Linked DNA regions of Homo sapiens. The protein of the gene in region 1 interacts with the protein of each later gene in a pairwise test. Each region holds a gene or a part of one and is shown in the gene's direction. Other genes may lie near its edges.

Region 1 (7,301 bases):
CGCGGGAGGCGGGGCTGGCAGGCCTGGCCGGGTCTCCCCTCTCTGCAGCCCGCACCTCGGCCGTGGCCAGCAGGGTTTGGCCCCTTGCTTTTCACGTTACCTTGTTCAGGACACGCCTTAAACTGAAGGCACCCTGTGGATGAGGAAAGGCGCAGTGGAACTTCCAGAGACCAGGCTAGAGGGGGCGCAAAGCCAGGAGGCGTCGCAGCGGCTGGTTAGAAGCACTTCCCTCGAGCTGGGGCACTACCGGGGCGCACAGGAACCTGGTAGTCCAGGCGTGAGGTCAGGAGCCGTGCGCTGGGGTCTGTGCTCTGGCCTTTGTAGCCGCAGCCTCACCCGCCTTGTATGGGAAATGGCTCAGTCCTAAAACTCTGGGCCTTCTGCTTCGAGGGTTGTGTGGAGGCGGGGATGAGCCAGTGAATGGGAACCTGCTTTGCAAAGACTGCCAATCAAGTACAGACAAATCAGCGTGATCAAAGATGGTGATGATAATGACTTCAACCTCTAGCCTGGTGTGAGGAACTAAAAGCAACCACAGAACACTTGCACCCAACGCCTGCGGGCGCTGCCGCGGGCCTCCGGAGCATGCGCGGTGGCTCCGCCCAAGGCAGGCCGTGGGCCCGGGACGCGCCTGGTCCGGTTCAGAGCTCCGGGTTCGCGGCGGGTTCGGAGCAGGTGCCAGGGGTACCGTGGCGGGATTGCCCTCTCCCTCCCCCTCCTTCTCCCCCTCCCCCTCTTCCTCCCTCTTCTCCTCCCCCTCCCTCTCCCCTTCCCCCCAGGGCAGCTGAAATTCCTCCGTTTGGAATAGAATAAGAACAGCTCCTGGAGAGGAAAGTTGTGGAGGCCCGACTTTTTTTTTTTTTTTTTTTTTTTTTTGGTTTTCGCCCACTCACGATTTCATATTTCACAACTCAGAAAAGTCTACTAGGAGCTTTTACAAACACTGTGTCAGCCACCTTGTATTATCCCCATTTTACCGGTGAAGAAACTGAGGCCGATAGTAGTTAAGTCAGTTATCAAAATACAAGTGAATTGCAGGAAATTGGAATTGGGGATTTCTGGCTTCGGGCCCTGTGTCCTTGGAAACCAGTGTTCACAGAACTACCGAGCTAAACGGACAGAGAAGGGGGTCGGGGAGAAAGGAGGGAAGGAAAAGAAAAGAAAGAAGGAAGAAAGAGAACATCTTTTAAGAGAGTGCAGTTCAGGTGACTCACGCGGGAGGAGTGAGCTGTGGTGGTGCCGCCAGGCCGGCTGCGTGGAGCACGCGCGGTGTCCAGTGCGCCCCGCGTCACCACACCCGGCCCTGCCTCTCCGCCTCTGCTTGGCGGCCCCTGCAGGAACCCCCAACCGGTCCTGCTGCGGGTCAGAGCCCCGCAAGATCCGGCCCGGTAGCCCTGGGCCTCGACCTTTCTCCTCCAGGTCTTCCAGGGTCCGCGCCGTGATGATTCGCCGCACCTAGCCTCGACCCAAGAGCCGCTGGACCCACCGCTGGCCGCGGCCCCGAACCCAGCGCTGGCGACAGCAAGTGTCGGGATGCCAGGGCTGGCGCCCTCCCCCTCTAGCTCAGCCCTCCGAACTCCAGGCTTTGGGGTCGCGTAGGGTCGGCGCGGAGCTCTAGGACTGAAGGTCGCAGTGACCAGAGAATCGGCGAGGTTATGGAGACCCCGCGTCCCTTGGCGTCGCCTGCACCAGGGCGCGCTCGCTTACAGTTGCCAAGGTGCATAAATGCGTCGACGCAAGGGAATGAAGGAATGGAGCGAGCGAGCCCGGCTACCGCGGTGCTGACAATTTCCAAGCCCCGGGCGGCGCCCGCGTCAGCGCTGGGAAGGTTAATGTTCACCTCCTGGACAGCCCAGGCTTGCAAGCTCGCTGCAGAGGAAAAGCAAGAAACTAAACAAGTGCAGACAATAATCACAGCACGTATTCTCTGGCCCCGTCCCCGTTGTTTTCTCTGTTGTTGCCATCGGTGTCTGGGATCTAACTTGACCATTCCGTGTTCCCTGGGGAGGGCGCATCTTCCTAACCTGGTGCCCGGGCGCGGCCCCACGGCTTTCGCGCTCTGCTCTGGGGCCTTGCAGGGAGGGTGCTACGGGCTGCGGCCGGGAGTGGGGACGCCCGTCGTCGGGAAGGGGGCGCTGTCCCCTCGTGGCCTCCGACCCTGCAGAGCACTGCCACCGCCCTGGAGCTCAGTAGGGTCAGAAAGTGTCGGGGACGAGCTCTTCCCGGGATCCTCCGCCGCCGCTCAATCCCCCCGTGGGACCCTCTTTCTCCCCTTTCTCAAATAGCTCCCTTCTCCTGGCCGGGCGCGGCCCTGGATCCCACGAGGCGCACTCTGGCCTAAGGGTTTTGCTGGAGGCATATGCGGGAAAGGGGTTGGCCAGTGGAAATGGCCTGGGCTTTGCAGGGTTGGGAAGTCCGCCTAGATGGAGGACGCACTCTCTGCAAACGGCCCCAGGTGGGTCCCCCGCCGCTTCGCCTCTGGTTCCAGGATGCTGCCCCAGCGGTGGGCACCCTGTTCTCTGCTCGAGCTGCGCAGCGCGCGCCCCGCCCCACACCCTTGTATTCCCGGCCCACCAGTGCAGCGGTTGGGGCGCACCGGCCTAGGGTGCTGCTACTGAATCCTGGCTGGAAAAGAGGGGCAAACCCAGCCATCTCTTTTGTGCGGAAAGCTAATTCTCGGATGAAAATTGTCCCCGGCTCTAGAGGTAAAAATTAGGACGTGAACACAGAGACGCTGCAGTTCACCTTACACTTGCCGGGTCTTAGCCGTCGGGCCCGTTGCATGTTGCATGCAAGGCATCGGTCGCTGCGCGCGGGGACATTGAAATCCGGACTCAGGCTCACGGGCTTCATGCCTAGAGTTATATTAACATCAAGCATCACAGGCAGGGTTGGAGCTTTCTCTGCATTTATCTCACCGAATCTTCACAACAGCCCCGGAAAGTCAGTCTTATCATTGTCCCGTGTTAGGATTAGGAAAAGAGATCCAGAGAGATGTGACTTGTCCAGAGTCGCGCGTTCAGTCACCTGAACACTAAGGTTCTGACTCCGGACCCCACGGCACCCCCGCACCCCCACAACGCTGCCTCCTTCCAGGATCACCTCTGTGGAGCCCCGCACATGGGTGGCGCTCAGTAAATTTTAAATTCCAGGATCTAGTCAAACCTGCCGACTTTCATTCAGTAGGTGTCTGAGCTATATTTGCTCACTCATTCTGCAGGCCTTGAGCGCCTACTGTGTGCCGGCGCTTATATGAGAGCGCGGGAACAGAGCTCCTCACAGGGGGCCGGGTGACAGGGGAGCTGCGGTGAGCGCGGCCGAGAGATGGCCGTGAGCTCCCAGCCTGCAGTCCCCAGGCTGCACGTGGGCCCGGCGCGCACGGTCGGTCTACACCAGGGTGTGCAGATGAGGGAAACTGGGGGAGTTCGCAGGTCGCAGCGCAGCCAGGGGGGGACGCGAGAGGGCGGGAGCGACTCCACTCGGAGAAGCGGGACTGCCAATCGGAGGAAGAAAGAAAAAATATAAGGAGAAAATTCAGGGTGAGAAGAGCCAGAAGTGAGGGAGCTGGAGGCCTGGACCCGGAGACTGGGTGCGGGTGGAGTGAGAGGAGAAATCAATCAGGTGGCTGAGAACCAGAACGACGGCCTCGCCCTCCTGAGAGCCAGGGGCGGCGGGGGCGTCGAGGGGTCTTGGGTGAGCACTGCACAGAACCCGAGGCGGGATGCGGCCCCCAGCCCCGGCTCCGGCCGGCCTCTGTGGCGGCCCAAGTTGACTGGGGCTGCGGTGGCCGAAGCCCGGTCATTTTCGAAAGGAATGGCAGTCGGAGTATTAAGAACGGCTGCTCTGAGGGGTTCATGGTCAATGTCTCTCACACCCAGGCGGGCTCGGCGAAACCTGGTTGGGTTGATTTTCTGAGGCCACACGCGCAGGGAGGGCGGTGGAGTCTGGCCCGGGCAGGCAGGGGCTGGAGCGGGCCTCCAGCGCCTGCCTTGCGTCTCTGCGGCACCTGCGGGTCCAGGGCAGGGGGCGGGAGGCGGCCCGGGGCAGCCGGGCGCAGATCCCCGGGCGGGCCCTGGCGGCGGAGGGGCGGGCCGGGGGCAGGCGCGGGGAGGAGGCCCTCCCTCACTCCCTCCCTCCGTCCTCCTCCCGGCAGGTCGGAGCGGGGACCCGGCGGCGGCCCGGGACGCAGGGAGGGGACCCGCGCCGACACCGAGGGAGGGGCCGCGCCGCCTTGGAGAGTCATTGGAGGACGCGGCCGCCCGAAGCTGATAAATCAGGGGCCGGGTCGCGGCTGCGGGCCAAGTTGGACGCCCCGACCCGTGCGAGGGCCAGGTCCGCGCCTGCCCCGCCAGGCGAAGCGAGGCGACCCGCGTGCGGCCATGGCTTCGCTGCTGGGAGCCTACCCTTGGCCCGAGGGTCTCGAGTGCCCGGCCCTGGACGCCGAGCTGTCGGATGGACAATCGCCGCCGGCCGTCCCCCGGCCCCCGGGGGACAAGGGCTCCGAGAGCCGTATCCGGCGGCCCATGAACGCCTTCATGGTTTGGGCCAAGGACGAGAGGAAACGGCTGGCAGTGCAGAACCCGGACCTGCACAACGCCGAGCTCAGCAAGATGCTGGGTGAGTGAGCGCGCGGCCGAGCGGGCTGGGGGCCGGGGGCGGGCGGCGGGCGGCTGGCGGCACTGCAGGGCGGGTGCGAGCGCGGAGCCTGGGGAAGACCCGGCACGCGGGACGAGGGCCCTCTTCGTGCCCGCGTGGCTGGCCATCTGCGCGAGCGTGGGTGCTCGCGGTGCCCAGGATTCAGAGCGGGGGCACTTGGCGCGGTCCAAAGTGAAACCGCGCGGCGGGCAGGGAGGCTCCTCTGCTGGGACAGGAGCGGAGATCGGCGCCCCAGGGGGCGGGGAGACGGGGCAGCGGCCAGGCCAGGACGCCTGGCGACAGGGACCGGCGTGCATGGACAGGGCAGGGACGGAAACGTTTGAGGCTGGGTGGAACAGGCGTTTACTAGGAATACCGAAGCGGGAAAAGCCAGCATTCCCTGGACCTTACAATTGGGCCATCTCAGAGGAAGGCTGTCACAGATGAAATTATAATTAACGAATATTCCCGAAGAGAGACCCTGAGGAACGAATCCTTGCTTTAACTAAACAATTAAGAGGAAAACAAAACAAAAGAAAAAGCTTACCCAAATAGACTCGATTCGTTCATCTATTGCTCAGTCTCGAAGGTGTAGATAACTTGATTCGGATGCTTGGGCTGTCCTGGAACCCGCTCTCTTCCTGAGCTGTCCCCGCAGGGACTGGGGACACGGACTCACCAGGTCCAAGAGGTCCAGAGTGAGGCTGTTAGGACACACCCGAACAACCGGAGTTCCTATGGGGGTTTCTTTTTTCTCCGGTGTCGAGCTGAGTACTTTTCAACCCTGCCTTCTTTGCCTTTCGACGAGGTTTTTATTCGTTTTAATCCGCGAAAAACTTTCAAAGCACTTGGTGCACGCAGCGGGAGACAGGCCCTGTAAGAAGGGCACCCGAGGCCGGCTCTACCCTTCCCAAACCCCACCCGGTCCGGAACAGAGCCCTTCCTTTTTTCGTCGGAGTTCAGAGCTCAGGGCTCTTTCCCGAGGCGGAACTTTGGGGATAGGACTGACGCCCCTCTTTCTGCTGGCTAAAGCCGCAGGCCCGCAGAGGGGGTCCCAGGCCGAGCCCTCCTGCGGTTTAGCTGCTGTGCAAAGCAGTTGATGGAGTGCTGGTTGCCAAGGGCCCAGCCTGGTGGCCGGCTGCACCAACTCGCCTTAGTGGTCTGGGGCCTTCTGGGGCCTTTTCCCTCAACAAAAATAGTAACATTTGTATTTTACACAGTGTTGGCATAAAGACAAATGTGTTAATATGTACAATAATAAAACATTTTATTTAACCTGTAAGTTTATATTTTTCTTCAGATTTTAAAAGAAGTGAAAATATGTTTGTTGTGGATCCCCAAACTTTTTTTTCCACGGACCGTGGGCACTGTGCCTGTTGACCCTGCCAACAGGGGGAAGCAAGCCCCTGCTGTGACCGTGACAGAGGAGGAATTCTGTGCAGGCCTGGGCCAGGGAATGGGGAGGAGAGAGGAGCATGGCTCTGCAGAGTTGGGGAAGCCTGCTCCCAGGAAAGGGGCAGGGACAGGGACACAGGAGACAGATGCTTCCTGCGAGTTGGTCCCCATCGGGGCCTGCACTTCAGCTTCAGGAGGTTACAGTTCATTCTGCAGAAAAGACACAGATTCCTTCCTGCTGAGCCATGTAGCTCCTGGCACTGGGTGAGGGAAACCGCAACACTGGTGCTTTTCACAATATGGACTTGTGCACCTGTTAGTAGGGGGCAGCAGGATGATCCCCTCCACCTGTGTGACATTTCCTTCTCAGCTCTTTCCTTTCTGACCTGAGAGGAAAAGGCTGGATATGCGAGTCTCAACTTTTTCCACTATAAACCTTCCAAACCTTAACATTAAAAATGTGACCTAGTCACACTGGTATTTAAAATATATTATGAATGAGAAAGTGCATAAAGAGCAGTAGACCTTTGGTAGCATTTTTAAATGAACACGTATTTTATTAGTTATATAACATCCAGGTACATTTAAAAGCTACGGCCACATTTTATATTGAGACCACAGACAGAGTATGGGGTGCACCTGCATCTTGGGTCACTTGCCACAGCTTTGTAGCCTCAGCCACAGGCTGGGAACTGACGACCAGCCCTGAATCTGCAGCTCCTAACACTTTCAAGTTGCCCTTTTGAGTGACAGCTAATGATGTTAATTGAAAGCTCCATGGAATTTCTATAAATTTTCTCCCAATTGGTACAATGCCCTTAATCATTGCCCTCCCCTGGCTCTGAGCCCCTGGCCCAAGGAGCCAGTCAACGGAGGCACTGAGGGCTGCTGTGTGCACGGCTCTGCACCTGGCCCTGTGCAGAATGTGCTGAGTGGAACACAGGGCCCTTTCCTTAGGCCTTAACCTCTAGGCTAGCGGGTCTCAAACTTCAGGACACATTAGCATCATGGTAGAACATGTTAAAGTTGTAGAATCCTGAGCCCACCTTAGGAGGTAGCAAAGCAACCCAAGGGGTCCAGAAGCCCCCCACCCCTAGAAACCACTGCAGAAGGGTGTGCAGTGCACACTGATAGATGAGGGAAGATGCTCCGGGAACTTGAAAAGCAACAGACAAGCAAGCAATGGTGAATAGAAGATCAAGCGCAGCCAGCATATTAGCACCAGTGGGTTGCAAGCATGGAATAATTTTTAAAGAGAGAGTTTGGAGCTG
Region 2 (5,820 bases), on another chromosome or scaffold:
AAGGCTCGTGCAGATGGGGGTGTGGGTCTGATCCAGGGGTTGGCAAGTTGCAGCTGGCTGCCCATTTTTGTAAATAAAGTTATATTGGCACATAGCCACATCCCTTCATTTATACATTGTCTGTGGCTGCTTTTATGCTGACAGTTGCAGCAGAGAGCAGAACTGAGCAGTTGCAGCAGAGACTGTCTGGCCTGTAAAGCCTGAAGTGTTTAGTGTCTGACTCTTTAAGAAGAAGTTTGCCCACCCCTGGTCTAACCCAATATTGTCCGGAGAAAAATCCAGATAAAGTCATATGTTGGAATGACTAATTCTGTGTAGTACCAGACAGATTAAGAAGTAAAATCATTTCCATTGGTCTGTAGTACATTTTGTTAGCAGTGAAACGGTTTTCTTGATTATTTTAAAAACATCAAATGCATAGAGGTTTTACACTTTGATTTAACTGTATTTCCAGTTAAAATGTCTTCTCTTTTTTGCAGTGTTGAATATGAAACATTCGATATATTGGAGGATGAAGAAGTAAGTTCTGTGTTTGATGTTTCACCCTTGTCTTAGCTTTAATCTTAAGGGCCTGATAGGATGGTTTCAGGATTCCTGTTGTTTCTTTAGGTTCGGCAAGGATTAAAAGCTTACTCAAATTGGCCAACATACCCTCAGCTGTATGTGAAAGGGGAGCTGGTGGGAGGATTGGATATTGTGAAGGTAAGGCCAGTTCTTCTGCTGTTCTAAAGAACGGAAAAGATTTTGGTATGTTTAAAAATGATTTCATATTGAATGGAAACTTGAGAGTTGTTTTTGACTCCTGTTTCCAGCCTGACTCTCAGACATTTCTAGACCAGTATCACCGTTTCTGTGTGCATGACTACCCTGCCATTCTCACTGTCCCCACGTGGCAGCCTGTTCTTACTTTCACACCTGAGCTAACCATTGCATCTCCTTTCTGTGGGGTGATCTTCCCTGTCACTCAGGGTCCTTGTTAGATCCTGCTTCAGCTCCCAGACAACAAATTGTTTTTTCTTGCCTTACTCATCTGCCCTTGGGTGCATGGAGTGACAGCAGTGTGAGGCCTGTGGCCCGGTGCTGCCCATCCTTGCCACAGAGGCTGAGGATCACTGCCCCTGGTCCCCCGAAAGAAAAAATGTAGGTCCTTTTTGGTTTTGAGATGCTTGGAAATCTGTTATCTGTTAGATTGTGTTTTAGATAAGACACCATTTCTTATGTATCTTGAGTCCTTCCTGATGCTTTGTGTATTTTAGGAGTTCAGTAAATGGTTGTTGGATGGATAAGTGACTTTACTTCTTGATTGAGTTTTAAATGGACGTTACTTTGCATGTATTTAATGTCTAGAATTCAGGGCAGGCCCACCAACTAACACCTGTGTGCTCTGTAGCTCTTTGATTAGCCCAAAACAATAAACAGAAGCTGTAGCTTTAATATCTACACACAGACCCCACTGCACCCCAGGCCCACTGTGGGCATGGTGGCATCGAGGAGGGTGGTAGCTGGTTGGGTATAGAGAGGAGCTAGACAGGAATGCTGGGCAGGAATGCCAGGGTCTGCTCAGGGGCATGAACAAAACTGCCCCGAAAAGTGGGTTGCTGACTGCCCTCAGGCCTTCCTCTTGCCTCAATCCATGAGAGAATTTTCTGAGGTCAGATCTTCGACTTTTTATGTGGAAAACAAATAGCAAGTAGTACTACTTCTAGTTATGTTGTAAAATAAAAGTTTTTTTTTTTTTTTTACATTTTTTTTTGAGAGAGTTTCGCTCTTGTTCCCCACTGGAGTGCAATGGTGCAATCTCGGCTCACTGCAGCCTCTGCCTCCCAGGTTCATGTGATTCTCCTGCCTCAGCCTCCTGAGTAGCTGGGATTACAGGCACCCGCCACCACGCCCCACTAATTTTTGTATTTTTAGTAGAGATGGGGTTTCACCATGTTGGCCAGGCTGGTCTTGAACTGCTGACCCCAGGTGATCCGCCCACCTTGGCCTCCCAAAGTGCTGGGATTACAGGCATGAGTCACCGCGCCTGGCCAAAATAAAAGTTTTTAACACGTGCTTTTGTAAAGTGAAGCACTAGCCTACCACTGAAATGACATCAGCACTTTGGACCAATATGTTTTATAAAAACAAAGCTTGAGTTCCATTGATGCAGAGGCTCTTTTTGTCCTTTGGTGGCCTCTGTGTAGGTTTTGTTTCCTGTGGAGTTCCAGGTTTGATATCATACTTCTTAAACAAGCCAGTGAGACATTTTTCCTGGGGAATGGTCTCACTCCTGGAGGAAAAAATTTTTAAGACTATTGCTCTTGAATAGCCCTGAAGCAGCAGAAACAGATCTGCATTTGTTTCTTCCCTCCCTCCCTCCTTCCCTCCCTCCCTCCCTCCCTCTTTCTCTCTCTCTCTCTCTCTATATATATATATATAGTCTTATTTTTGTAAGACACAAAGAATACTCAAACCCCAAATACTCTTGAGCCTGTTCTTGTCTGAATGTTTTATAGCCTGTACCTTAGCCATTGGTAACTCTTGGGAAGATACAATCAATAAATCTCATTTAATTCTAAAGCTAAGCTGCGTGGGTAACTTCTTTTTAGTTATATAACAGAGTGTTATATGATTTTTTATGTTCACCTGCTAAGAACATATACGTTTGAAATGTGTGATATTGTTAACGTTTTTCCTTGAGAAGATATATGGAATAGATCTTACGATCCCATTTTGATCTGTTTCTTGCAGAATGCAGTTCTTCATGTTCAGTTCAATTAAAAGATGTTTGAAATGGTCTAATCTGGCTGGCCTCTTTGGAGCAATGAGCGTTTGTTTTGTTGAATGAGGGACTGAATGATGATTTAGTTACTCAGCTAATCTAGTGTCCTGAGAAAATTGTGAGTTGTTATTGCCTCTGAAGAGTAAACGGTTCACTACTGCTGTTCCAGAATGTTTGGACTTAAGACAGTTTGTTGAGAGAGATAGAAGATTTGGTTAGGTTTAGACTTTCCACCTGCCGGCTCGCATTAACAGCAGTGAGGGTGGCGAGGACTGCCTTATTTGGCGCGCTCCCAATGTTCCAGGCACACTGCTTTGGTGCTTTAAGAGGCTGCTTCACGTAATCTCCCAAGCAGCCTCAGAGAGCAGAATTCTTCTTAGTCAGTAGATGAGGAAACAGAGACATAGAGAGGTCAGGTGAATTGTCCACCATCCCATAACTAGTAAGCCATTGAGTCCAGATTCCACCTGAGGGCCACCTGCCCTTGCCCACTCAGCTGCGTGGTCCTCTCCGTGCCTTCTTGAGTGTGTGCTCAGAAAAGTCCTGCTGGGTCCCTTGGAGGGGCAGGGTGTCTGCTTGTTGAGTAGGTAGAAGAAGATCCCTAGACATGACTGAAAGCCGTCTGGGTTTTGTGTGACAGCATCATTCCTATTTGAATTTCATCCAGAGGAGGTCATACGGATTTTAATGGTTTTATTGATTGATGTTTATGCTGTTCAGTGATAACCTGAAATGTTATATCATACTAAATGTTTCTTTAAACCAGAAAATCTTATTTATCATGTCTGTCCTTTCAAGCTTGGTGTCTATAATCCAGATTTTAAATCTGAAAAACAGGCACAAGGAGCATGGCGCCTGTACTGCAGTTCCAGTCAACCTGGTGGTAGCTCTTTTGATGCCATGTCTGTTTCTGAATTGTTAGGTCTTTTTAATGGTTTCTGCCTTTCCCTCTTACTGGTACTCTAGCTTTTCCTGAGGCAGAGATGTGTTGCCAGGTTGGGTTTCAATAGCAAAGCCTGATTCCTCTCTGTGAGTGGAAGAACGGGAGGGGAACAAGCATCATATTTGAGTAGACTTTTAACGTCACACTGCTTTTTTTTTCTTCCTTTTTTTCGAGACAGAGTCTCACTCTGTCACCCAGGCTGGAGTGCAGTGGTGCAATCTTGGCTCTTGGGTCACTGCACCCTCCACCTTCTGGGTTCAAGCAATTTTCATGCCTCAGCCTCCTAAGTAGCTAGAATTACAGGCACATGCCACCATGCCCACCTGGCTAATTTTTTTTTTAATAGAGATGGGTTTTGTCATGTTGGCCAGGCTGGGCTTGAACTCCTGACTTCAAGTGATCTGCCCCCTTGGCCTCTTAAAGTGCTGGGATTATAGGTGTGAGCCACTGCGCCCAGCCACATTACTTCATTCTTCAACCTTGAAAGTCACTTGATTTATTTTCCTTATTTATTGCTACAGTTTAAATAGGGGCTTCATTGGCTCCAGTTGCTGCGTTTCCTAATACTAAACAATCTGTTGGTTTTAGGATACCTTAACTTCATTTATTTATTTATGAATGAATGAATGAGATGGAGTCTCGCTCTAGCCCAGGCTGGAGTGCAATGGCACGATCTTGGCTCACTACAATCTCCACCTCCCGGGTTCAGGAGATTCTCCCTGTCTCAGCCTCCTGAGTAGCTGGGATTACAGGTGCCCGCCACCATGCCCAACTGATTTTTGTATTTTTAGTAGAGACGGGGTTTCACCATGTTGGCCAGGCTGTTCTGCAACTCCTGACCTCAGGTGATCTGCCCTCCTCGGCCTCCCAACGTGCTGGGATTACAGGCATGAGCCACTGCACCCAGCCTTATTTATTTATTTTTTAAGAGACAGATTTCACCATGTTGGTCAGGCTGGTCTTGAACTCCTGGCCTCAAGTGATCTGCCCACCTCGGCCTCCCAAAGTGCTGGGATTACATTTGTGAGCCACCACACCTGGCCAAGAATACCTTGTTAAATTTTTTAACCTGATAGTGTATTCAGGGTTTATGGCTCATTTAGTTTGAGAGTGTTAAGAGACTGGAGTTTTAATCCAATAGGTGTTTCTTTTGGTTCTCAGATATACATACAAGCTGTGATTGTTTAGATGTTTCCATCTTTTTATATATGCATATACATATTATTATTGTTGTTTTTTATTTTTAGGAACTGAAAGAAAATGGTGAATTGCTGCCTATACTGAGAGGAGAAAATTAATAAATCTTAAACTTGGTGCCCAACTATTGTAAGAAATATTTAATTACATTGGGAGCAGTTCATGATTTAGTCCTCAGAAATGGACTAGGAATAGAAAATTCCTGCTTTCTCAGTTACATGTTTTGTGTATTTCACAATGTCGTGCTAAATAAATGTATGTTACATTTTTTTCCCACCAAAAATAGAATGCAATAAACATCTTCAAATTATTAACAATAATTGTATGAAAAAAGTGTATCTTTACAGCAGTATTAAACATACAGCTACTATAATTAACCCACCTTAAATCTCTTTTTCTTAGTACATGAGTATCTTCTAGCAGTTAAGAAAGGCAGTCTTCAGAAAATGGAGAACTGTGGCGGAATGCAGTACACAACAGTATTTAGGACAACTCCTTTGCCAACACAATGGCTCCCCTCGCTGGTGAAAGATCTCTTTACAGCTTAGGAAAAACAACGGAAATTAGTTTCTGATGTCATTGCTGAGCTCGGCACTGGTTACATTGCAGAGGCAGTGTAGGATGTCTGCAGGTTTAGAGACTCATTTCACAAGGCACCAGTAGTGAATTATCAAGAAACATTTAAGAGGAAAATGATTTCTCATTGAATATGGTACAACAAGCACTTTTTTCATAAGGTCTAGAAGAATGGGTAGTCATGACAAAGAATGGAAAAGTATTGTCATTTGTTGTAAGCATCACTACTTTTTTTTTTTTTTCAGACGGGGTCTGGCTCTGTCACCCAGGCTGGAGTGCAGTGGCACGATTATGGCTCATTGCAGCCTCGACTTCTCGGGGCCAAGCGATCCTCCTGCCT
Region 3 (7,038 bases), on another chromosome or scaffold:
CTAAAATTATTTTCACTTACTTTTTCCTGAGACAAAGTCTTACTTTGTTGCCCGTACTGGAGTGCAGTGATGTGATCTTGACTCACTGCAATCTCCGCCTCCTGGGTTCAAGCAATTCTCTTTCCTCAGCCTCCCGATTAGCTGGGATTACAGGCGCCTGCCACCATGCCCGGCTAATTTTTGTATTTTTAGTAGAGACGGGGTTTCAACATGTTGGCCAGGCTGGTCTTGAACTCCTGGCCTCAAGTGCTCTGTCTGACTAGGCCTCCCAAAGTGCTGGGATTACAGGTGTGAGCCACCGGGCCTGGCCTTCACTTACTTCTTTTTCCTTTTTATTTTTCTTCTGAGACAGGGCTTGGCTCTGTTGTCAAGGCTGAAGTGAAGTGGTGCAATCACAGCTCACTGCAGCCTCGACCTGGTAATCCTTCCACCTCAGCCTCCCAAGTACCTGGGACTACAGATGTGCACCACCATGCCAGGCTAACTTTTTATTTTTTGTAAGAGACAGGGTCTCACTGTGTTGCTCAGGCTGGTCTCCTGTGCTCAAGTGATGCGCCAGCCTTGGCCTCCCAAAGTGCTAGGATTACAGGCGTGAGCCACCATACCCAGCCTTTCTTTTTATTTTTTCTAATATGGCTACTAGAAAATTAAAAGCTGCATACATTTAACTTGCATTGTATTTCTTTGCATTGTATTTCTTTTGGATAGCTCTCATTTAACTCTCATTACCCCACTGCCAGACTCTTCAGTAGCCTTCTGACTGGTTTCCCTACCTTGAATCTGTAATTCCCTCCCTGTACTGTGCAAATCGATCTTGTAATTCTCATGCTTAGGATCCCTCTGTGCTTCCTCATTGCTTATTGAACATCATTCAGACTTTTAGCCTAATCATATAAAAAAATTGCCTTTATTTTACTTCTTCATACTTTCCCAGCCACGGTTAATACTTTGGCCATATCGATTTTCAATGATGGAACTATTAAATGTCTACTTTTAAATGATTTAACTTTCTGGTGAACCTTCAAGATGAATTAATTGCTGAATGTAACTCCGTGCTCCATTTGCCATTCCCAGAACTTATGTTCCCTCTTTGCTTTGGTTTTTTGTTTTTAGGGTTTTTGTTGTTTTTGTTGTTGTTGTTGTTGTTTTTTAAAGACGGTCTCACTTCAGGGTGGAGTGCAATGGTGTGACAATGGCTCACTGGAGCCTTGACTTCTCGGGCCCAGGTGATTTTCCCACCTCAGCCTCCCAAGTAGCTGGGACTACAGATGTGCATCACTATGCCCAGCTAATTTTTGCATTTTTTGTAGAGGTGGGGTTTTACCATGTTGCTCAGGCTGGTCGTGAACTCCTGGGCTTAAGCTATCTGCCTTCCTCAGACTCTCAAAGTGTTTGAATTATAGGCGTCAGCCACAGTACCTGGTCTGCTTTGGGTTTTTGTATGTGATTTCTTTTTCTTTCTGGAGTACTTTCTCCTTGCTCCTTGACAAGCCCCCTCCTTTAAGACTTTGCTCAGTGAGGGCTTCCCCCCACCCTCCCTCTGCTCCACCTTATTGGGTCCCATCATGGCCTGTACATACACTTACATGAAATGGTCTGGGCTGAATTTGAATTCAGCTCTGTCAAATGTAGTTTGCGAGATCATGTGCAAGTTAATAAGCCTGTCTCTGCCTCAGTTTCCTCATCTATATAGTAGAAATAATAGTTCTGCTGGCGTGGTGGCTCACGCCCGTAATCCCAGCACTTTGGGAGGTCAAGGTGGGCAGATCACCTGAGGTCGGGAGTTTGAGACCAGCCTGACCAACATGGAGAAACCCCATTTCTATTAAAAATACAAAATTGGGCCGGGCACGATGGCTCAATCCTGTAATCCCAGCACTTTGGGAGGCCAAGGCGGGCGGATCACAAGGTCAGGAGATCGAGACCATCCTGGCTAACACAGTGAAACCACGTCTCTACTAAAAACAAAAAAAATCAGCTGGACGTGGTGGCAGGTGCCTGTAGTCCCAGCTACTCAGGAGGCTGAGGCAGGAGAATGACGTGAACCCGGGAGGCAAAGCTTGCAGTGAGCTGAGCTCATACCACTGCACTCCAGCCTGGGCGACAGCGAGACTCCGCCTCAAAAAAAAAAAATTGGCTGGGCGTGGTAGCGCATGTCTGTAATCCCAGCTACTCGGGAGGCTGAGGCAGGAGAATCGCTTGGACCCAGGAAGTGGAGGTTGCAGTGAGCCGAGATTGCACCATTGCACTCCATCCTGGGCAACAAGAGCGAAACTCTGTCTCCAAAAAAAAAAAAAAAAAAAAAAGAAATAATAGTTCGACTTCCCCAAGGTTGTAAGGTGCCTAGGATAGTGCCTGGCACATAGAAGGTACACAATAAATTTTAGGTTAAAAAACACCCATCAAATATCTTTTATTTCCCACTTCTTTTCAAAATGAGAAGATTAAAAATAAAGGCCAAGAAGAAATGAAAGAAGCAGATAAAGCCAGTGGCAGAATTAGTGCATGGACCGGAAAGTCCTGCATCATTGCTAATGGTTGCTTTGGTGTTTGGCTCTGAGTTTTCTGGAGTAAAATGAAGAAGAAAATAAAGTTCAGTTTTCAGATTCATGGTATCTCTAAAATCAAACGTGAGTTTTTAAAGATTGCTTCTTGGCCAAGCGTGGTGGCTCACATCTGTAATCCCAGCACTTTGGGAGGCTGAGGCGGGTGGATCACCTGAGGTCAGGAGTTTGAGACCAGCCTGGCCAACATGACGAAACCCCATCTCTACTAAAAATACAAAAAATTAGCCGGGCATGGTGGCGCGTGCCTGTAATCACAGGTACTCAGGAGGCTGAGGCCAGAGAATCTCTTGAACCTGGGAGGTGGAGGTTGCGGTGAGCTGAGATTGCACCACTGCACTCCAGCCTGGGCAACAGAGTGAGACTCCGTCTTAAATAAATAAATAAAGATTGCTTCTTATACTTCTCAATCCAAGTGAGTTATTGCCAGTGAACAGTCTCCACGGGGCCAAAGCAATGTGGTTTTGGTATATGGCTCTCTGATGGTTTGGCTTGATTCAGAGGTAAAGAGGGATGCGTACACTGTGGGGACTATACGTGTTTTGTTCACTGTTTATCCCCAGCAGCTAGAATAGCATCTGGCACGTAGAGAACAGTTTATTGAATTTTTGAGTGAACAAATCCTTTAGTAATTCTCCAGGAATTTAAGTAAGCATCAGGTTGCAATGAGTTTATTTTCTCAGTCCAGAATCATGAGGCTACATATTCAGCATGCCTGATTTAGGTTAGATCCTGATCATGTCAGCATTTTGACCTGAATGGACAACCAGCACATGTATTTAAAGGTCCTATGGGCAGGACCAAGATTTTCCTCAGAAAACAGTGCAGGGGTTGCTCTAAAACTAGAAAACAAAATGTACAGTTAAGACCCCAAAGATGAATTATAGAATAAGGATGTAATGGTTGTAGCCAGATATTTAAAAAAATAGGTGTTAGGCCGGGCGCGGTGGCTCACACCTGTCATCCCAGCACTTTGGGAGGCCGAGGCGGGTGGATCACAAGGTCAGGAGTTCAAGACCAGCCTGACCAAGATGGTGAAACCCCATCTCTAAAAAATACAAAAATTAGTCAGGCACAATGGCGCATGCCTGTAATCCCAGTTACTTGCGAGGCTGAGGCAGGAGAATCACTTGAACCTGGGAGAAGGTTGCAGTGAGCCGAGATCGCTGCACTCTAGCCTGGGTGACAGAGCAAGACTTCGTCTCAAAAAAAAAAAAAAAAAGTGGTATTAGTTGCCGGGCATGCTGGCTCACACCTGTAATCCCAGCACTTTGGGAGGCCCAGGCTGGCAGATCACGAGGTCAGGAGTTTGAGACCAGTCTGGCCAATGTAGCGAAACCCCGTCTCTACTAAAAGTACAAAAATTAGCCGGGCGTGGTGGCAGGCAGCTGTAATCCTAGCTACTCAGGAGGCTGGGGCGGGAGAATCGCTTCAACCTGGGAGGCAGAGGTTGCAGTGAGCTGAGACCACGCCATTGCACTCCAGCCTGGGCGACAAAGCGAGACTCCATCTCAAAAAAAAAAAAAAAAAAAAAAGAAAGGTATTAGTATCAGTTTTATACTGTGGCTATAGAAATTCTGAATATCAAATGATATAAATTCCTGGTAAACACTTCAAGATGAATTAATTGAGGCAGATGAATGGTGTGAGCCCAGGAGTTCAAGACCAGTCTGGGCAACATGGTGAAACCTCATCTCTACCAAAAATACGAAAATTAGCCAGGTGTGGTGGTACACACCTGTAGTCCCAGCTAGTTGGGAGGCTGAGGTGGGAGGATCAGCTGAGACTGGGAGGTGGAGGCTGCAGTGAGCCATGATTGCACCACTGCACTCCAGCCTGGGCAACAGTGAAAACCTGTCTCAAAAAAAAAAAAAAAGGTAAGTTAATTGTTGAATGTAGCCTTGAGTAACTGATTGAACGGGTCTGCTATGTAGAGTTGTTGACAGTTATATTACATATGTAGTACATTTTAGAAAACAGTTGACAGAATTATGGTTTTTTTTTTGTTTTTTTTTTTTTTGTTTGAGATGGAGTTTTGCTTGTTGACCAGGCTGGAGTGCAATGGTGTGATCTCGGCTCACTGCAGCCTCTGCCTCCTGGGTTCAAGTGATCCTCCTGCCTCAGCCTCCTGAGTAGCTGGGATTACAGACATGCGCCACCACACCCAGCTAATTTTGTATTTTTAGTAGAGATGGGGTTTCTCCATGTTCGTTAGGCTGGTCTTGAATTCCTGACCTCCGGTGATCCGTCCGCCTTGGCCTCCCAAAGTGCTGGGATTACAGGCATGAGCCACCATGCCCAGCCCAGAATTAGGATTTTAAAAATTTTTATTTAGTTTTGAGATGGAGTCTCACTCTGTTTCCCAGACCGGAGTGCAGTCATGCTATCTCGGTTCACAGCAACCTCTGCCTCCTGGGTTCAAGTGGTTCTTGTGCCTCTGCCTCCTGAATACCTGAGATTACAGGGGCGCACCACCATGCCCAGCTAATTTTTTCTGTTTTTAGTAGAGGCGGGGTTTCCCCATGGTGGCTAGGCTGATCTCGAACTCCTGGCCTCAATTGATCCGCCTGCCTTGGCCTCCCAAAGTGCTGGGATTACAGGCGTGAGCCATCGTGCCTGGCCTAAAATTATGATTTTTATTTTAGGATATTGATGTTAAATAATTCTTTTTGATAGGTGTTAGTTAGTGGCTGAGTTATCTTTTGAGAACATTTCTAGTGCAGACCAAACTGTAAGACAGTTTAAGAAAAACAAAGACAGTTTGAGATAAGAACCTCATGCATTATTATTTCTTTGTATCTTTTTCCCCTTAAAACTTTTATTTCCTTATCATAGTTCATCTTTGCACCCTTATAAGGTACTAAGGGGGAGCTCAGTAAAACTAGTGAACCAATAAATGAATTGGTGGCAAGAGGAGTTAGTGTGGGATGGGTTTGGTTGTCCAAAATAATGTGATACTATTTAATGCCCCTGAAAAACTGCAATGGACTGAAAGGAGTTTTAAGATTAGGAAACTGGCCGGGCGTGGTGGCTCATGCCTGTAATCTCAGCATTTTGGGAGGCTGAGGCGGGCGGATCACCTAAGGCTGGAAGTTCAAGACCAGCCTGACCAACATGGAGAAACCCCGTCTCTACTAAAAATACAAAATTAGCCTGGCGTGGTGGCGCATGCCTGTAATCCCAGCTACTCAGGAGGCTGAGGCAGGAGAATCGCTGGAAACTGGGAGGCGGAGGTTGCAGAGAGCCGAGATCGTGCCATTGCACTCTAGCCTGGGCAACAAGAGCGAAACTCCATCTCACACACACACAAAAAAGATTAGGAAACTTGGTCTCTATGTGCTTTTGGAAAATTCTGAAGAGTCCAATATGTCTGTTAATGATGTTTGGGTTATGAGTTGGAGAATCCTTTCTGGTCCTATTAGGAACAAGATCCATTTGTTTGGATAGGATTCACATTGATGAAAGCTTTACTGTATGATTTGGGGGCTTTTGTTGTTGTTGTTGTTGTTACATATTTAAAGCAAAGAGATCCGGGCATTTTGTTGTTGTATGTAATTTGTTTAAGAAACATTTGAATGCTTTCTAGTTCTGGGTTCTAGGGATATAGATATGAGTGAGGTGGCCGTTGTTGGGGAAAATCTCATGTATTAATGGGAAGACAGACACTGAAATATGAGACAGTGTAATGACTTTGTATATATACAAAGGTTTACACAGTACATACAAAGGGTTTATAGGAATTCTGCATAGTGGTAGTGAGGGCAGTTTCTGCAGTCATTTATCTAAGCCCTGAAGGTTTAGAAGGTTAATTTGTTGGTAGTGTGACTATTGAAATGACAAGAGATGACAGCCTAGATGTAGACTGACTAATAATGAGGTCTTGGGTGAACTAAATTCAGGACCTGAACCAAGATAGTGCCAGAAGTGGAAAGAAAGATGTTTTTAAGAGCTTGGGCTGTGGTGTCAGACTAAGGGGTGGTTCTCAACTAAGGGGGTTTTGCCTCCTAAGGGACATTTGAGAATGTCTGGAGACATTTTGGGTTGTTACAACTTGGAGCACCTAGTGAGTAGAGGCCAGATATACTGCTACACATCCTAAAATGCATGGGACAGCATCCTAATCTAAGAGTTCCCCAGCTCAAAATGTCATTAGTTCTGAGGCTGAGAAATCTTGCATTAGAGTTTGAATCCTAGCCCTTCCAAATGTCCTCACCAATACTTGGTCTTGTGATTCTTTCTTTTTTTTTTGTTTTTTGAACAGGTCTGTAGAGGTACAGTTGGCATACAGTGAGCTGTACATATTTGAAGTGTACAATTTGATAAGTTTTGAAATACATGTATACCCTTAAAACCACCACCATTGTTTGCCATTCTGTGGGTGTACACTGGTACGTGTCATTGTGGTTTTCATTTGCCTTTCCCTGATGACTGATAATGTTGAGTATCTTTTCATGTGCTAATTTGCCATTCATAT
Region 4 (7,038 bases), on another chromosome or scaffold:
CAACCTAAGTATTTGGTGATGGAGAGATACCTCTAAGCTCCCAAACAAGGAAATTATTGCCCTTCTCTCCTGCAAAGATCCCTGTTTTGCCTGGGGGAGGAAGAGGGAATTGTCAGAATATAATTTCAGGAATTTCAGGAGCTGTGCTTTGGTTCATCTGCTGCTGAGGTAGAGATCACCAAAGTCTCTGTGGAGGGCAAAAGGATCAGATAAGAAAGAAGTCACTCCTCATAGATTGAGAAATCTGAAACCTTAGGAATTCTTGCTGATGAATTTTATTCCCTTCTAGTCTAAGAAACCTTTCTTTCTTCCCAGCGAGAGACATATAGAATAAATCACTAACGGCGCAAACAATATTTGAGATAAATGCGGTTGCCAGATAGTTTCCTAGGAGTTCTGCAGAGGCATGTGATGACTGCAAACAGCTGAGTCTGTATTTTAATTCAGTGGAATATATTCAGACTCCTCTGGGAGCTCTAACATGTTGTCTGTAGCCAAGGGCTCAATGCTACAGTAATAGTTTTGTGTGCGTGTGTACGTGTTCTTCAGAAATTAAGCCATTTCTTCAAAATTTCAGTTTAGTACAAACAGTAAGCCCAGGTCAAAAATGTTCACCAAGACATTAGCAAACTCTAATGGAGGGTTAGTTTTCCAGGCATTCAGAACACAGTTTCTAAACGTGGTTGAGAAAAATTACCTTGGATGTATGGAGCATCATTGAACAATGACCTTTCAGGTTAATTAAGAAAGCTGAAGCCCCAGAGGAATCTTGAGCAATTTTTTGTTGTTGCCTGAAGGAACCAAAGAATAAAAATGTAGTGGGAATATTTGGAAAGGGGATGATTTTTCAAGCTTGTAAAAAATGAAGACCAGCCACCAGAAGAAAATGCTTTTATGTGAATTCAAAGAGAAATGCTTTTTTATTTTAAGTAAAATTTAGGTCCTCAGACTTCTTAGCTTTTCTATAAATTGGCTTTTGGTTATCCACGTTAAGCCCTTTATTTGCTCCTGTTTAATATAGGAACAAATGGTGAAATAAAGAGGAAAATGGGTCCATTCTATGAGAATGTATGTGCAGTGGAAGCATTTCTTCTTTTAGTTTTCTATATAAAAATATTTACTCACACTGTATACTAAGTAGTTTAATCATGGCAGGTGTCTAATGACTTTTTTTTTCCCCAGCTGACTCAGGTGTTGACACCTTGGCAGTGTTTATGGCCAGCAGCGGAACTACAGACGTCACAAATCGGAACAGCCCAGCCACACCACCAAACACCCTTAACCTCCGATCCTCCCACAATGAACTGTTGAACGCTGAAATAAAACACACAGAAACCAAGAACAGCACACCTCCCAAATGCAGGAAAAAATATGCACTAACTAACATCCAGGCGGCCATGGGCCTCTCGGATCCAGCTGCACAGCCCCTGCTGGGAAATGGCTCTGCCAACATCAAGCTGGTGAAAAATGGGGAGAACCAGCTCCGTAAGGCTGCAGAGCAAGGGCAGCAGGACCCCAACAAAAACCTGAGCCCCACTGCAGTCATCAACATAACTTCTGAGAAGTTAGAGGGTAAAGAGCCCCACCCACAGGATTCCTCGAGCTGTGAGATTTTACCCTCCCAGCCCAGGAGAACTAAGAGCTTCCTAAATTACTATGCAGATCTGGAAACCTCAGCCAGAGAACTAGAGCAGAACCGAGGCAATCACCATGGGACTGCGGAAGAGAAATCCCAGCCAGTCCAGGGCCAGGCCTCCACCATCATTGGGAATGGCGATTTGCTGCTGCAGAAACCAAACAGACCCCAGTCCAGCCCTGAAGACGGCCAAGTAGCCACAGTGTCATCCAGCCCAGAAACCAAGAAGGATCATCCGAAAACAGGGGCCAAAACCGACTGTGCACTGCACCGGATCCAGAACCTGGCACCGAGCGATGAGGAGTCCAGCTGGACAACGTTGTCCCAAGACAGTGCCTCACCCAGCTCCCCGGATGAAACAGGTACCCCTGGGGAAGGCGTAGCCTCAGCTGGCACTTTTTTTTTTTTATCTTTTCAACTATTGGAGTAAATCTCTAGACTGACCAAAAATGTCCATTATGCAGAGAGGAACGTGAGCCTCTTGCGGTAAAATTGGGCAATTTATTTGCAAAATATTACTGCATTCCTCAACCATATTTTAGGTCAGTTTCATTTTGGATCGTGCATAAAGTTGTTTGTTCTGGGAAGCATTTTTGTAAAATAAACAGATCCTTGGTGTTAAGTACAGTAAAATATCATATATTTAGAAATTACACTTCCAGTGCATAGGTAGATCATTTCTATATGCTATCTAGAAATACTGGGTTTTGGTAAGCAAAATAATAAAAGAAACAAAGTTGTTGGGGGAAGGATATAACCCAATTAAGAGAACTATTTTAAAGTCCTCAAAATAACTTATTTATGGTGAAGCGCATAAAAAGTTAAAACATTAGCCATCTGTTCATTAAAGGCATTTCTCTTTTTGACATTTACTGAGGAGTGTTTTATTAGCCTTAAGTAATATTTAAAAGTGGGAAAATCGTATTTCTTGAAAAATATATTCAGAAGTTTAGACTTTTAACTAGTCTAATTGAGACCAGTCTTTCTGGACTTTTGTCTATATTTGTAATATTTTGGATTTGTCGGAGGTGTTAAAATGGTGACAGAAATGAACAGGATCCTAAAAGTCAGCTACTTTAAATATCATTTTCTTATAGCTCCCACTATACTGATTCTAAGATTGAAAAATGTGGAGAACCTTATTGTATCTGAATTCAGCGTAAACAAGCACTCAGAAAGGCTAATTTTTTAAAAGTAGTCCAGCAGTTCCCCTAGTGGGTCCCAGGGCTGTGTTAATATAGATATAACAAAGAAAATAGATAGAACCACCAGGGAAGGAAATCACATTTTTACAATCGATAAGGTAGATAAATTACAAGGACTAAAGATAAGGAAAAGAGGAGTTAAGACATTAACTTGTTTAAGAAGAAAAAAAAAGTAGCGTTTTTGAAGTGCCCTTTAAAAATCCCAGTACTTTCAATGATGCATACTACTGTGGAATGTGGCAGTAGGGAGGTTGAGATGAGGCCATTTCATCTCATAACTGTCTGGCCCTGCACATTATTGGAATCATAATTATGTTCAGTAATGTCCCTGAGTTCACAGCTCTCTATCCTTTTTACCCATTTAGAGAATTCATATCCTGAAGCTGATAGACATTGTCACCTGCTGGAGTTTGAATCTATTAATACATGAAAGACTCCTTGCACATCTTTCAGCCAAGCTCTACTTCCTGTGTTTGGCGTTTACTGACACCTTGCTGTCTCCCTCTGGTCATGGCACCCTTTCTGCTGCTCTTCCTGGTATAGCCGGTTCTGTTGTAGTTAAGTTTTAAACTAACCTAAAGTTTTGTTCAGGCACAGTGGCTCATGCCTGTAATCCCAGCACTTTGGGAGGCTGAGGCAAGAGGATCACCTGAGCCCACAAGTTCAAGACCAGTAAGACCCCATCTCTCCTCCTCCAAAAAAATTAGTTGGGCATGGTGGACGGTGGCATGTGCCTGTAGTTCCAGCTACTCAGGAGGCTGAGGCAGGAGGATCACTTGACACCAGGAGTTCGAGGCTGCAGTTAACCATGATTATGCCATTGCCCTGTAGCCTGGGTGATCGAGCGAGACTCTGTTTCAAAAAACATAAATGTATTTTTAAATGAATAATTAAGCTGCCTCTTCCCTTCACCCCAGCCCCCTTTCCCAGTGATGACCATTACCTTATGTTTTTATTTCCTCTCAGAAAATGTTTGAGTCATAGATCCGCATATTAATAATAAATTTTAAGACCGGCATGATGGCTCACGCCTGTAATCCCAGCACTTTGGAAGGCCAAGGTGGAGAGATGGCCTGAGCTCAGGAATTTGAGACCAGCCTGGGCAACATGGTGAAACCCCTTCTCTACTAAAACATTAAAAATTAGCCAGGCATGGTGGCGGGTGGCTGTAGTCCCAGCTACCTGGGAGGCTGAGGCACAAGAATTGCTTGAACCTATGAGGCGGAAGTTGCAGTGAGCCAAGATCCCGCCACTGCACTCTAGCCTGGGTGACAGGCGAGACTCCATCTCAAAAAATAAAAATTAGGCCAGGCGCAGTGGATCACCAGGTCAGGAGTTCAAGGCCAGCCTGACCAATATCGTGAAACCCTGTCTCTACTAAAAGTACAAAAATTAGCTTGGTGTGGTGGTGCGTGCCTGTAGTCCCAGCTACTCGGGAGGCTGAGGCAGAAGAATTGCTTGAACCTGGGAGACAGAGGTTGCAGTGAACCGAGATTGTGCCACTGCACTCCAGCCTGGGCAACAGAGCGAGACTCCATCTCAAAAGAAATTTAAAAATAAAATTAAATTAAATTAAAATTAAAAAAAAAAACAATAATAATCAATTTTAAAATTTACCCAAATGTTGTGATGATGTTTTTAGAATCCCTATGTTTTAGAGATATATACTAATATAAAATACTAATCTATGTCATAGTATAACATATATAATACAGTATAACACATACTGATGGAAACAATATTGTGTATGGTATTTTCTCCAAAATAATTGGGATTAGAAGGATAAAAAAAGAAACAAAATTGCCCATAAGCTGCTGATTGTTAAAGCTGCATTATGGGTACGTGCGGGTTCATTATTCTATTCTCTAATTTTGTATGTTTAAAATTTGCCACAATAAATAGTTAAAACCAGGAAAAAGTTACTCCAATTAGATTGTTTTATGAATGCTTTGCTTTTTTTCACGTAAGAACGTATTTTGTAGATCAGTCCATTTTTCTACGTCAGTCTTTTTAAGTATTATGTATACTATTCCACTATATACAAGTTCCACGATTTATTTAGCAAGTTCCCTGCTGATGAGTATTTAGGTATTTCTGTCCATAGCCCCTTGGCTTATTGAGTGCTGGTGTCAGTAGGGGCCTGTGGAGAGGGCAAAGTTTGTGCACTCCAGTCTACCTACTGGGACTCTTGAAATGTACACGTTAACTCCCTCTTTCCAGGAAGACTTTCAGGGGCCCCTCTGCTGTGACACTTACCACTCATTTGCTCAGTGTCCTGACATTACTTGCTGTTGGGTTTCCACAGAACATCTTACAGTGCTTGGCCTGTGATGAGAACTGGATTAGAGTTTTTTTTACATGTTAAGAAGATATGCTTAGTTTTCTCTCTGAAAGTTGGTTTTGACAGGATGATGGTGGCCCTTGATAAGTTGCTGAGGATAGGTATTTCAAATCAAATATGCTCGAAAAAATGTATTAGCTGTGACCGAAAAGCAATGAGATTGTGTTTTTAAAAAATATACTAGAAGCCAAACCTATGCCAGCCTTCAAAATGTTCACTTGGGATCTCTGCACCTGCTTCAGCATGTTGCACTGTCTCAATATTAATAGTCATAATTTTGGGAGTCCTCTTTTGGAATTGCCTCAGAGTCTGCTGTGGATCCCCATGAAATGAAATCACTTTGCTTTAATCACACTTCAGGTTTCAGGTAATACATAGATTGGTGAATGAAATAAAATAAGCAGTTTTTTAGCATTGTATTTCTTTTGATTTCATCCTTCCTGTGAAACATACTGTTAGTGTTTAAAATAATCATGATCAGTCTAAATTAAACATTGTATGTTTCACTTGTAATGATAAAGTTAGTGTTTATTATGTATGTTTTATATAGTATATACATGTGTATGTGTATATATATAAAATAAACACAAATACCAACAGTTGAAAGAAAAGAGAAAACGAGAGCAAATATCTTGTGACATCTTAGTATGCCATGCCATAGTACATGTATAAAAAGGGTATAGTTGTCTGTTGACTTGCTGTGTGTTAAATACATAGTCATCACAGTGGTGTGTGTTTTATGACTAAATCATGATGCAATTATCTTTGGATCGTAGACTGCACTTTGGGGAGCCTAGAAAAATAGACTCATTTCTACCTCAGGGGCATCCTTTCCAAGTTAGAATGCTATTTATACAATAAAATGCAATGGCTAACCTAGAGACTGACTACTTTCTATTTTCCTTTACTACTGAATCGCCCCCTCCAGCTGTTTAGTAACTTCTTTTTGTACAATCAATCATGTATACAATATGTGGCTGCCCTTTTCCTCCTCTGTAGTCTGTCCTTTAAGAAAACAAGAGGCTATTTGAAAAAGGAAAAGCATCTGTGAAATGACTATTTTCATAGGAGTTTAGAAAAGTTAAAGAGTGCCTTGGCCCTGATTCTAAAAGAAAGGTTGTATCTTGCTACTGCAAAGTGAGAACTTTGAATCTAGTTAGGGTTTTTTTCAAAGATACAGTTCCCTCAGTGGCCCCAGGTAGTAAGCATGATGGCTCAGATAAATAAATACCTGTTGGTCACACTGTATATAGTCTCTCTGTTAATCACTTAGTGTTTCATGTTTGCTTTATGAAAACGTTGAAAAGATGCATCATTTTGAACCTTCCTGGGTACAGGTTTCAGTGGTACCCACATGTAATTTTATGTTTAGTTTGGGATTTAATAAAATTGAAGACACAGAGTATGAAACTAGATGGATCTTGTGTAGTAACTGTTTCAAAATCAGATTCATTGCTAAAGTGTACAAAAGCAGAATTATACACAGAGAAAACCAAGTCCCAAGTCTAGATGGGTGTGGCAATGCGCCTCATGATCCATTAACTTATCATTAAGAGCATAGGCTCTAGAGTGAGCTTCCTGAGTTCAAATCCCAGCTCTGCTATATCTAGGCAGTTCTCATAGCCTCTCATCTATAAAATGGGGATAAGAGTGTTTTGGCATAGACCTGCTGTGAAGATTAAGCGAGAGCATCTTCAAAGAGCTTTTAGGAGCAGTATCTGGCATATAGCAAGAGCTCAATGAATATTCATGATTATTATATTAGAGACAGTATCAGTACAGTGGTGTGTTATAAAAGTTTGCTTTTCTCTTAATTATGAATTACCTATATTTTGGACTCTGAGTTACGACTTTCT

The links.
Region 2: the proteins of SOX7 (region 1) and GLRX3 interact in binary tests that used the Homo sapiens proteins (3 or more experiments, as listed by UniProt).
Region 3: the proteins of SOX7 (region 1) and SCAI interact in binary tests that used the Homo sapiens proteins (3 or more experiments, as listed by UniProt).
Region 4: the proteins of SOX7 (region 1) and APBB2 interact in binary tests that used the Homo sapiens proteins (3 or more experiments, as listed by UniProt).

What each region holds. Positions count from the first base shown.
Region 1 is NC_000008.11:10,727,512-10,734,812, reverse strand, and holds the start of SOX7 (transcription factor SOX-7), read left to right. Parts: upstream 1-4,301; 5' UTR 4,302-4,379; coding exon 4,380-4,617; intron 4,618-5,182; exon of another isoform or gene 5,183-5,522; intron 5,523-7,301. UniProt on the Homo sapiens protein: Binds to and activates the CDH5 promoter, hence plays a role in the transcriptional regulation of genes expressed in the hemogenic endothelium and blocks further differentiation into blood precursors.
Region 2 is NC_000010.11:130,174,388-130,180,207, forward strand, and holds the end of GLRX3 (glutaredoxin-3), read left to right. Parts: intron 1-479; coding exon 480-519; intron 520-609; coding exon 610-702; intron 703-4,954; coding exon 4,955-5,005; 3' UTR 5,006-5,285; downstream 5,286-5,820. UniProt on the Homo sapiens protein: Together with BOLA2, acts as a cytosolic iron-sulfur (Fe-S) cluster assembly factor that facilitates [2Fe-2S] cluster insertion into a subset of cytosolic proteins.
Region 3 is NC_000009.12:125,133,518-125,140,555, reverse strand, and holds part of SCAI (protein SCAI), read left to right. Parts: intron 1-7,038. UniProt on the Homo sapiens protein: Tumor suppressor which functions to suppress MRTFA-induced SRF transcriptional activity. May function in the RHOA-DIAPH1 signal transduction pathway and regulate cell migration through transcriptional regulation of ITGB1.
Region 4 is NC_000004.12:41,008,543-41,015,580, reverse strand, and holds part of APBB2 (amyloid beta precursor protein binding family B member 2), read left to right. Parts: intron 1-1,182; coding exon 1,183-1,998; intron 1,999-7,038. UniProt on the Homo sapiens protein: Plays a role in the maintenance of lens transparency, and may also play a role in muscle cell strength. Involved in hippocampal neurite branching and neuromuscular junction formation, as a result plays a role in spatial memory functioning.